Regions from separate parts of the Homo sapiens genome. Here region 1 is linked to region 2. The links come from fine-mapping of genetic effects on gene expression. A gene starts in region 2. The other region holds a variant in brackets. All regions are shown on one strand. Distances are from middle to middle. Region 1 overlaps PM20D1-AS1 (PM20D1 antisense RNA 1). Region 2 holds the start of PM20D1 (peptidase M20 domain containing 1).

Evidence for each region. PIP is the estimated chance that this variant, and not a neighbour inherited with it, causes the effect. A credible set is the group of variants that fine-mapping cannot tell apart.
Region 1: its variant is the best candidate, but not a certain one, in a credible set for the expression of PM20D1 in lung (TOPMed, PIP 0.51).

The regions. Positions count from the first base shown.
Region 1 is chr1:205,885,892-205,891,267 of GRCh38, reverse strand. It overlaps PM20D1-AS1 (PM20D1 antisense RNA 1), which reads right to left. Exons shown (of 3, transcript NR_046097.1): 2 at 1-112. Among named protein-coding and RNA genes, the nearest start is that of PM20D1-AS1, 27 kb to the right of the region's middle. The variant T/C (reference allele first, on the strand shown) is at 2,945.
Region 2 is chr1:205,847,133-205,852,508 of GRCh38, reverse strand. PM20D1 (peptidase M20 domain containing 1) reads left to right here and starts at 2,377. Exons shown (of 13, transcript NM_152491.5): 1 at 2,377-2,605; 2 at 4,538-4,624. The coding sequence starts at 2,437. RefSeq lists an enhancer at 2,154-2,448.

The DNA of each region.
Region 1 (5,376 bases), 39 kb before region 2:
TTCCATGTTCTCCAACCATCACTCTGGTGACCCTTCAACCTGGATTCGAGCCCCCATGATGGAGACCACTTGCTGAGACCAGCTTGGTCGGGGAGACTCTAACCCAGTGGCACTAGAGGAATTAAAGACACAGAAATATAGAGGAGTGAAGTAGGAAATCAAGGGTCTCACAGCCTTCAGAGCTGAGAGCCTCCAACAGAGGTTTACCCATGTATTTATTAACAGCAAGCTAGTCATTAGCATTCTTTCTATAGATATTAGATTAACTAAAATTATTCCTTATGGGAAATGAAGAGATGGGCTGAAATAAAGGGATGGGTTGGACTAGCTATCTGCAGCAGGAGCATGGCCTTAAGGCACAGATCACTCATGCTATTGTTTGTGGTTTAAGAATGCCTTTAAGCGGTTTTCCACCCTGGGTGGGCCAGGTGTTCCTTGCCCTCATTCTGGTAAACCCACAACCTTCCAGCGTGGGCGTTAAGACCATCATGTACATGTCACAGTGCTGCAGAGATTTTGTTTATGGCCAGTTTTGGGGCCAGTTTATGGCCAGGTTTTGGGGGGCCTGTTCCCCACAGAGAAGATGATAACCAGCATCATAAAAATATGTGAAACTATAAAAACTCACTGGTAAAGCTAACACATAGGGAGAAAGAGATAAGACTCAAATCTTATCCCTACAGAAAACTGCCCAACCACAAAAGTAAACAGTAAGAGAGGAAGGAACAAAGGATATACAAAACAAGCAGAAAATAATAGAATGCTAGATGTAAGTACTCACCTATCAAGAATAACGTTGCATGTAAATAGATTGAATTTTCCCATTTAAAAGATATAGACTGGGCTGACTCTCTTTTTGGACTCAACTCGTCTGCACCCAGGTGAAATAAACAGCCTTGTTGCTCACACAAAGCTTGTTTGGTGGTCTCTTCACATGGATGCATGACACATTTGGTGCCAAAGACCCAGGTCAGCAGGACTCCTTCAGGAGACTGTCCCCTGTCCTCACCCTCACTCCATGAAGAGATCCACCTACGACCTTTGGTCCTCAGACCAACCAGCCCAAGGAACATCTCACAAATTTTAAATCGGGTAAGTGGCCTCTTTTTACTCTCTTCTCCAACCTTTCTCACTATCCCTCAACCTCTTTCTCCTTTCATTCTTGGTGCCACCCTTCACTCCCTCTCTTCTCTTAATTTCAATTCCTTTCATTTTCTAGTAGAGACAAAGGAGACACATTTTATCCATGGACCCAAAACTCTGGTGCTGGTCATGTACTCAGGAAGGCAGCCTTCCCTTAGTGTTTAATCATTCCGGGGATGCCTGCCTGATTATTCACCCACATTCCATTGGCGTCTGATATCTTCAGGGATGCCTGCCTTGGTCATTCAACCACATTCCCTTGGTGGCAAGTCAATTGCGGGGATGCCTGCTTTGGCTGCTCACCCACATTGCAGCCCAGGGCTGCTCCCCAACCCTTTCTCCATGTCTCTACCTTTCTCTTTAAACTTGCCTCCTTCACTATGGGCAAACTTCCACCCTCCATTCCTCCTTCTTCTCCCTTAGCCTGTGTTCTCAAGAACTTAAAATTTCTTCAACTATCACCTGAACTAAAATCTAAATGTCTTATTTTCTTCTGCAACACTGCTTGGCCCCAATACAAACTCGACAATGGTTCTAAATGGCCAGAAAATGGCACTTTTGATTTCTCCATCCTCCGAGACCTAGATAATTTTTGTTGAAAAATGGGCAAATGGTCTGAGGTGCCTGACATCCAGGCCTTCTAATACACATTGGTCCCTCCCTAGTCTCTGTGCCCAATGCAACTCATCCCAAATCTTTCTTCTTTAGCTCCTGTCTGTTCCTTCAGTCTCCACCCCAAACTCTGAGTCCTTTGAATCCTTCTTTTCTACAGACTGATCTGACCTCTCCCCTTCTCCCCAGGCTGCTCCTCGCCAGGCCAAGCTAGGACCCAATTCTTCCTCAGCCTCTGCTCCCCCACCCTATAATCTTTCTATCACTTCCCCTCCTCACACCCAATCTGGCTTACAGTTTCGTTCTGCAACTAGCCCTCCCCCACCTGCCCAACAATTTCCTGTTAAAGAGGTGGCTGGAGCTAAAGGCATAGTCAAGGTTAATGCTCCTTTTTTTCTTTATCCGACCTCTCCCAAATCAGTTTTTAACATCAAATATAAAAACTCAGCCCAGTTCATGGCCCATTTGGCAACAACCCTTAGACGCTTTACTGCCCTAGACCCAGAGGGGCCAGAAGGCTATCTTATTCTCTATGCATTTTATTACCCAATCTGCTGCTGACATTAGAAAAAGCTCCAAAAATTAGATTCTGGCCCTCAAACCCCACAACAGGACTTAATTAACTGCACCTTCAAGGTGTATGATAATAGAGAAGAGTTGCAATTACTTGCCTCTGCTGTGAGAGAAACCCCAGCCATATCTCCAGCACACAAAAACTTCAAAATGCCTAAGCCACAGCAGCCAGGCATCCCTTCAGGACTTCCTCCCCCAGGATCTTGCTTTAAGTGCTGGAAGTCTGGCCACTGGGCCAAGGAATGCCTGCAGCCTGGGATTCCTCCTAAGCTGTGTCCCATCTGTGCGGGACCCCACTGGAAATTGGACTGTCCAACTGGCCCAAGGCTCTGACTGTCTCCTTCCCAGGTCTTCTTGGCTTAGTGGCTGAACACTGACACTGCCAATCACCTCAGAAGCCCCCTGAACTGTCACGGATGCCGAGTTTTGGGTAACTTACAGTGGAGGGTAAGTCTGTCCCCTTCTTAATCAATACAGAGGCTACCAACTCCACACTACCTTCTTTTCAAGGGCCTGTTCCCTTGCCTCCATAACTGTTGTGCGTATTGATGGCCAGGCTTCTAAACATCTTAAAACTCCCCAACTCTGGTGCCAACTTGGACAATATTCTTTAATG[T/C]ACTCCTTTTTAGTTATCCCCACCTGCCCAGCTCCCTTATTAGGTCAAGACATTTTAACTAAATTGTCTGCTTCCCTGACTATTCCTAGGCTACAGCCACACCTCATTGCTGCCCTTTTCCCCAGTTCAAAACCTCCTTCACATCCTCCCTTGTTATCTCCCCACCTTAATCCACAAGTGTGGGATACCTCTACTCCCTCACTGGCAACTGATCACACACCCATTACTATCCCATTAAACATAATCACCCTTATCATGCCAATATCCCATCCCACAGCACACTTAAAGGATTAAAGCCTGTTATCACTCACCTGTTACAGCATGGCCTTTTAAAGCCTATAAACTCTCCTTACAATTCCCTCATTTTACCTGTCCAAAAACCAGACAAGCCTTACAGGTTAGTTCAGGATCTGTGCCTTATCGACCAAATTGTCTTGCCTATCCACTCCATGGTGCCAAAACCATATACTCTCCTATCCTCAATGCCTCCCTCCACAACTCCTCCATAACCCATTATTCTGTTCTAGATCTCAAATATGCTTTCTTTACTATTCCTTTGCACCTTTCATTCCAGCCTCTCTTCACTTTCACTTGGACTGACCCTGACACCCATCAGCCTCAGCAACTTACCAGGGCTGTACTGCCACAAGGCTTCATGGACAGCCCCCATTACTTCAGTCAAGCCCAAATTTCTTCCTCATCCATTACCTATCTCAGCATAATTCTTCATGAAAACAACGTGCTCCCCCAGCTGATCATGTCCAGCCAATCTCCCAAACCCCAACCCCTTCTACAAAATAACAACTTCTTCCCTTCCTAGGCATGGTTAGGTACTTCCACCTTTGGATACCTAGTTTTACCATCCTGACTAAACCATTATATAAACTCACAAAAGGAAACCTAGCTGACCCCATAGATCCTAAATCCTTTTGCCACTTCCCTTTCCGTTCCTTAAAAACAGCCCTAGAAGCTGCCCCCACACTAGCTCTCTCTAACTCATCCCAACCCTTTTCGTTACACACAGCCAAAGTACAGGACTGTGCGGTCAAAATTCTTACACAAGAGCCAGGACCACACCCTGTAGGCTTTTTGTCCAAACAACCTGACCTTACTGTTTTAGGCTGGCCATCATGTCTCCATGCAGCAGCTGCTGGTGCCCTAATACTTTTAGAGACCCTCAAAATCACAAACTATGCTCAACTCACCCTCTACAGTTCTCATAACTTCCAAAATCTATTTTCTTCCTCATACCTGACACATATACTTTCTGCTCCCTGGCCCCTTCAGCTGTACTCACTCTTTGTTGAGTCCCCGACAGTTACCATTGTTCCTGGCCTGGACTTCAGTCTGGCCTCCCACATTATTCCTGATACCACAACTGTCCCCCATGACTGTATCTCTCTGATCCACCTGACATTCACTCCATTTCCCCGTATTTCCTTCTTTCGTGTTCCTCACCCTGATCACACTTGGTTTATTGATGGCAGTTCCACCAGGCCTAATCTCCACTCACCAGCAAAGGAAGGCTATGCTAGAGTATCTTCCACATCTATCATTGAGGCTACCACTCTGCACCCCTCCACTACCTCTCAGCAAGCTGAACTCATTGCCTTAACTTGAGCCCTCACTCTTGCAAAGGAATTTTGCGTCAATATTTATAGTGACTCTGAATATGCCTTCCATATCCTGCACCACCATGCTGTTATATGGTCTGAAAGAGGTTTCCTCACTATGCAAGGGTCCTCCATCATTAACGCCTCTTTAATAAAAACTCTTCTCAAGGCCACTTTACTTCCAAAGGAAGCTGGAGTCATTCACTGCAAGCACCATCAAAAGGCATCAGATCCCATCATTCAGGGCAATGCTTATGCTGATAAGGTAGCTAAAAAAGCAGCTAGCATTCCAACTTCTATCCCTCACAGCAGCTTTTCTCCTTCTTATCTGGTCACTCCCACCTACTCCCCCACTGAAACTTCCACCTATCAATCTCTTCCCACACAAGGCAAATGGTTCTTGGACCAAGGAAAGTATCTCCTTCCAGCCTCACAGGCCCATTCTATTCTGTCGTCATTTCATAGCTTCTCCCATGTAGGTTACAAGCCACTAGCCTGACTCTTAGAACTTCTCATTTCCTTTCCACCATGGAAATCTATCCTTAAGGAAATCACTTCTCAGTGTTCCATCTGCTATTCTACTACTCCTCAGGGATTGTTCAGGCCCCCTCCTTTCCCTACACATCAATCTCAGGGATTTGCCCCCAACCAGGACTGGCAAATTGACTTTACTCATACGCCTTGAGTCAGGAAACTAAAATGCGTCTTGGTCTGGGTAGACACTTTCACTGGATGGGTAGAGGCCTTTCCCACAGGGTCTGAGGAGGCCACCATGGTCATTTCTTCCCTTCTGTCAGACATAATTCCTCGGTTTGGCCT
Region 2 (5,376 bases):
TACAATAATGTCAATAGACTGTAGCAAGATATAACAGCATGCATAAATCCCACAAACAGTGTTGGGTAAAAAGAGCAAATTGCAGAAGACTACACACAACATGATGTCATTTTTATAAGATATACACACACACACACACTATACATATATGTATATCATACATATGTTGTAGAACTATTTAAAACACACAACACGGTCATACAATTACCTTGGGCAGGGAGTTGGAAAATAAAGGCAATAGAACACATGCACCTTCAATGCTACTGATAATTTTCCATGATTGGCTAGATCTGGGAACAGTGTGGGAATTAGACAGATTGCAAGAATTGGAGCAGTGACAGGAGAAAAAATGCAGTTTGACCAGTTAGGTCTAAACTCCAAATCACGGGTGTTCATGTTATTATTTACTTTACATACACGTTGTACGTACTCTTAATTATCAAATATTATGTGATAAGATAATTTAAAGAATATTTAAGGACCAGGAAGTGTTTATGACATAATGTTAAAGGAAAAAAAGCAGAACATAGAACTTTGGATGCAGTATATGCATCTGTTTCATTTTAAAACAGGGACATCCTTCATTTGTGGGTATTTGTGTGCAGAGAAAAAAGATTGGATAACATCAAAATATGATGAGTGAACGTCTCTGGATATTGGGATAGCATGTGATTTTTTTCTTTATACTTAATGTTCCAAATATTTCACAAGGGCATAAATATACATGAATTTTACAATCATAAAAATTGTGCTGGGTGTGGTGGCTCATTCCTGTAATACTAGCACTTTGGGAGGCTTAAATGGGAGGGTTGCTTGAGTCCAGGAGTTCAAGAGCAGCCTGGACAAAATAGTGAAACCCTATCTCTACAAAAATAATAATAATTTTAAAAAATAATAAATATATAAAATAAAAAGTCTCTTTTAAAAAAATTTTAAAGTTAGGTAGAGATTAAGCTACTTTTTACTAAAAATTATGTCAATGTTCATGTTTAAATTTCAACTCTATTTTTAACATTCTAAATCTTAAACTAGGTGGTGAATCCAGAAATGTTCATTATGTTATTTTTTATATCTTTATAATATGTGAAGTATTTCATGATACTGTTTTAAAGTTGCTATTAAAAAGTAACTAGGCAGGGTGTGGTGGCTCACGCCTGTAATCCCAGCACTTTGGGAGGTCGAGGTGGGCAGATCACCTGAGGTCGGGAGTTCGAGACCAGCCTGACCAACATGGAGAAACCCCATCTCTACTAAAAATACAAAATTAGCCAGGCATGGTGGTGCATGCCTGTAATCCCAGCTACTTGGGAGGCTGAGGCCAGAGAATTGCTTGAAACTGGGAGGCGGAGGTTGCGGTGAGCCGAGATCGCCCCATTGCACTCCAGCCTGGGCACCGAGAGAGAAAAAAAAAGAAAAGAAAAGAAAAGTAACTACATGGCTGAATTTTTTTTTTTAAGCAAATCTTAAATGAAATGCAAACACCAGGACTGTGAACCTGTAGCTTTGGTCACAGGTAGCAATATGGCCTTACTGGTTGTATAGCACTTACTGAATTTTTCTTGAGAATTCTAAAATTTGAGAGTGATGCCAGATAAAATTGCATCAAGAAATCTGAAAGGAACGATTTATTCTGGCTTCAGGAAATCTGATTTTATATTTCTGTGACATAAGACAGGTTTTCTTTTTTCCAGAATGATCCTCTACTCTGAATAACCATAAAATTTCACTTGTGGAATACATCAAAATTATTTATACATCAAAATTCTCTTAAATATTTTATAGTAATCTTTCTAAAAATCCTTCAGTCTTACTGTACTTGTCTAGAGTTGCAAAAATGTAGTGTTAACATTAATATTAAAAGCACTTTCAATGAAATTTCTAAACAGGAGCCAACCCTCTGAGCTGGTATTTCAAAGCAGTATCTATAAACAGAGCAATTTGTTCCAATTTCAGATGAAATCAAGCTGGGAACCTAGAGAGCTCCCCCGCCCCAGGATCTAGGGAATTGTAGTCAGGTTCTAAGCTTCGGAAAAAACGAGCAGCAGAGTATGGTCTGATAAGCTTCGTGCATTTTATTTTGCTTTTCCTCCTTTATTTGATTTGTTGTCATACAGGAAAGGATTTATGGGTGAGAGATCAAGTGCGGACCAGACATGACTCTAGCCTGGAGCCCGACCTCACCTCTGCTCTGCAGGAACTGCTGGCCTCAGCACGAAAACCCACAACCCTCGAAAGGCCTTAAGGATCCTGGGCGGGGTCATTCTGTCAATTGGTTGTTCCGCTGTCCTAGCGAAGCGATGATTGGTCAGATCTGGATATGGGGTGTGGCTAAGGCTGTTTGCCGGAATAAGAGCAGAGCTAGGGCCAAGAAACGCTAGTCTGGGCGTTTAGGTCAGAACTACCCCGGTAGCCTGACAGCAGGAGCTCGAGAGAAGCATGGCTCAGCGGTGCGTTTGCGTGCTGGCCCTGGTGGCTATGCTGCTCCTAGTTTTCCCTACCGTCTCCAGATCGATGGGCCCGAGGAGCGGGGAGCATCAAAGGGCGTCGCGAATCCCTTCTCAGTTCAGCAAAGAGGAACGCGTCGCGATGAAAGAGGCGCTGAAAGGTGAACCCGGGTCCCCTTCACCCACCTATGCTCATATGTGGGTCCCTCCCTCCCCAGGTCAACCCGTGACTCCCCGCTTCCGCCGCAAAGCATCTGCTACTGCAGCTGGAGCCCCGACACGCACCCCAGCCCGGCCCCAACACCCTTCCCAGCACATCGTGCCCCTGTCTGGGGACGCCACACTTCCCCCATACCTGGCTCCTGGAACTCTGGTGTGCCCTGCCTAACCTGGAAGCTCCAACTTCACCCCTCTTGGCGTGACCACCGTCCATTCTTTCCCCTGCTTGCCTCGAGTATTACACCAGCTTTCATTTGTACATCAATTTTAACCTTTGAAAGTTTGCATGCCTGATAAATTACTGCGGTGTCGTAAAATAAGACAAATGATATTAGTCTTATCTACAAAGGAGAGAAATTGAGGCTTAGGTCAGCTAAATGATCTTCCCCAGGGCCCCACAGCAAAGAGTGGGCAGTGGGTGACAGCATCTAGTGCCTGTCGGACTCGCTGGGATCAGATGGCTCTAAAGAAAGGGAGTGGAGTGTTCCCGGGGTGTGGGATGTTCCTAATTCTCAATCATAATTGAAGAACATGTCTCCTCTAGATCTCTAATCCAGACCAAAAATTCATCCCTGTTCTGAATCTGCATTTTCCAGGAAACAGGAAAGTTTCTGTTGAGTGCTAGATCCTATGGGATGAAATCCTTCTTTACCATTCAGCTTAGCTCCAGTCTTTTCCCTTTCATTAAGTAATGGATTAAGAGAGACTGCCTGCATAAACATATAGAAGCAGATGCAGGGACCAAAAGCTAACCCCAATAGTTGGATATAGATTGTTCATATGCTAGAGTGACAAGCCTGGGAGGCAGAGCAGGGCTTTCCCAAAGCATAAATAATTCTCTAAAAGGCATTAGACAGCCACTCACAGTCTGCACAGAAGAGAACAAAAGCTACATAAGCTAGAATAGGGACCTCATAGCAACACAGCTTGGAACTCTGAGCAGGGGACAGAACACCTGAGATCAGATCCTTGGGTCTGCCCTTGAGTAGGCACTTGAATCTTTCTGAACCTCGGCTTCCCCATCTATCTGGTGGGCTATGCTATTGTAGGGTTGATCCTTAGCAAAACTGATGAAGTTTGTCTTTCAGAGACCCTTCCTGCCTCAGGTGAATTTGTTTGCACTGTGTTCTTGGAGAGCAGTCTAATTCAATATTCTCATGATTCATGCTTTCCCTCCCAGTGGTTTTGTCTTTGATCATGGAACTCTTTAAAACTGTAAAGTCTTAAAGACTCAAAGGGATGAGCCCAGTGAAGGTTCAGGAACTGAGACAACTGAGTAAGGAGGGTGAGATTATTTTAGGACTGAGGAGTTTGTTTGGAGGCTTCTAAATCCACCCCTTCCCAGGCATTATATGCCCAAAAAGCTGGTCTTGGTTGACAGACTAGTGAGACTCTGCATAAGGAATAAGCCTTTACATACAAAAACACACAAGCCTCATTGATGTAGGGACCCAGGACAGTGGGTGCCTTGAGAATGATGAAGCTTGGATTCATCAAAGCAATTGGTGATTTCAGAGGTAGTGAGGCCTTAGGAAGCAATTTATAGTAGCTTCCCTTCAAGACCAGGATCCAAAAATCCACTTCCCTCCAATCTTAGACTGTATTTGCCTTTAAGAACCATATCAGCCTAAACAAACCCAGAAGACATAGGTTTAAATCTATAGTCTGCCTGTTGCTCAGACAGCTCACCTAACCTCTCCAAGCATTTTCCCTCATCTTCGAATTAGAGGAAACAATAGCGCCTACCTCACATTAGTGTTTTGCCCTCTGCAATATGATAATGAAGGCAAAAGAACTTTTTGTGCACAGAGGACTGTAGAAAAAAACAATGACTAATTCATTTTCAATCTTTCATCTCTATTTGACTCTGACAGGTGCCATCCAGATTCCAACAGTGACTTTTAGCTCTGAGAAGTCCAATACTACAGCCCTGGCTGAGTTCGGAAAATACATTCATAAAGGTCAGCTGCAAATCAGGGGCAAGGGGTGGGTGGTAGAAATAGCAATGGAGACACAGTTCTTTTACAAAGTGATAAAGAAGTTTATTTTGCGACTGATCAGAGGACAATCTAATTCCCATAGGCAGAGTAGAGACTGTAGATTTGCTCTTGGAAAAACTAAGCCACCATATGTAGGGCAAAGATTGAGAGTTCATCCAGCCATTGCATTAGAGTACAAACTCTCTCAAATTTTGCCCTACATGTGTGTCATTCAATAAATGTTAAATCATCAAAAAGTAGAACTAGGATTTCCTTCTACTTGTGCAACTGCCCAGAACTATGTTCCATGCTCCTCCCACCCCTACCTCCTTACACACCCAAACACACCGGTACATATACACTCCACGTACTCAGGCCTACCCCAGATTCATTACTAACACATTTCTAGGCCTCTAGGCAGTCAACAACTTTGAGCTATAACATCAGTCTTTTTCCCTCATCCCTACCACCCATTGAGTACAGAGCTGAGGAAGGATGGGTCAGAGGAAAAAAGGATTCTTGGAACTCCTCCCTCCCCTTATGAAAATCTCATGGAGAGTGATGAGATTACCTTCCTAAATCTAATTAAAAACAACCCCTCCAAAGTTGTCAGAGGTGGGAGAAGGTGGCCTAGGAGCAGCAAGCAGCCCCCTCTCTAACACCCTGGGACAAATGGCTCTGGGATTAGCCATGCATGGTGGCGAGCACCTGTAGTCCTAGTTACAGGAGGCTGA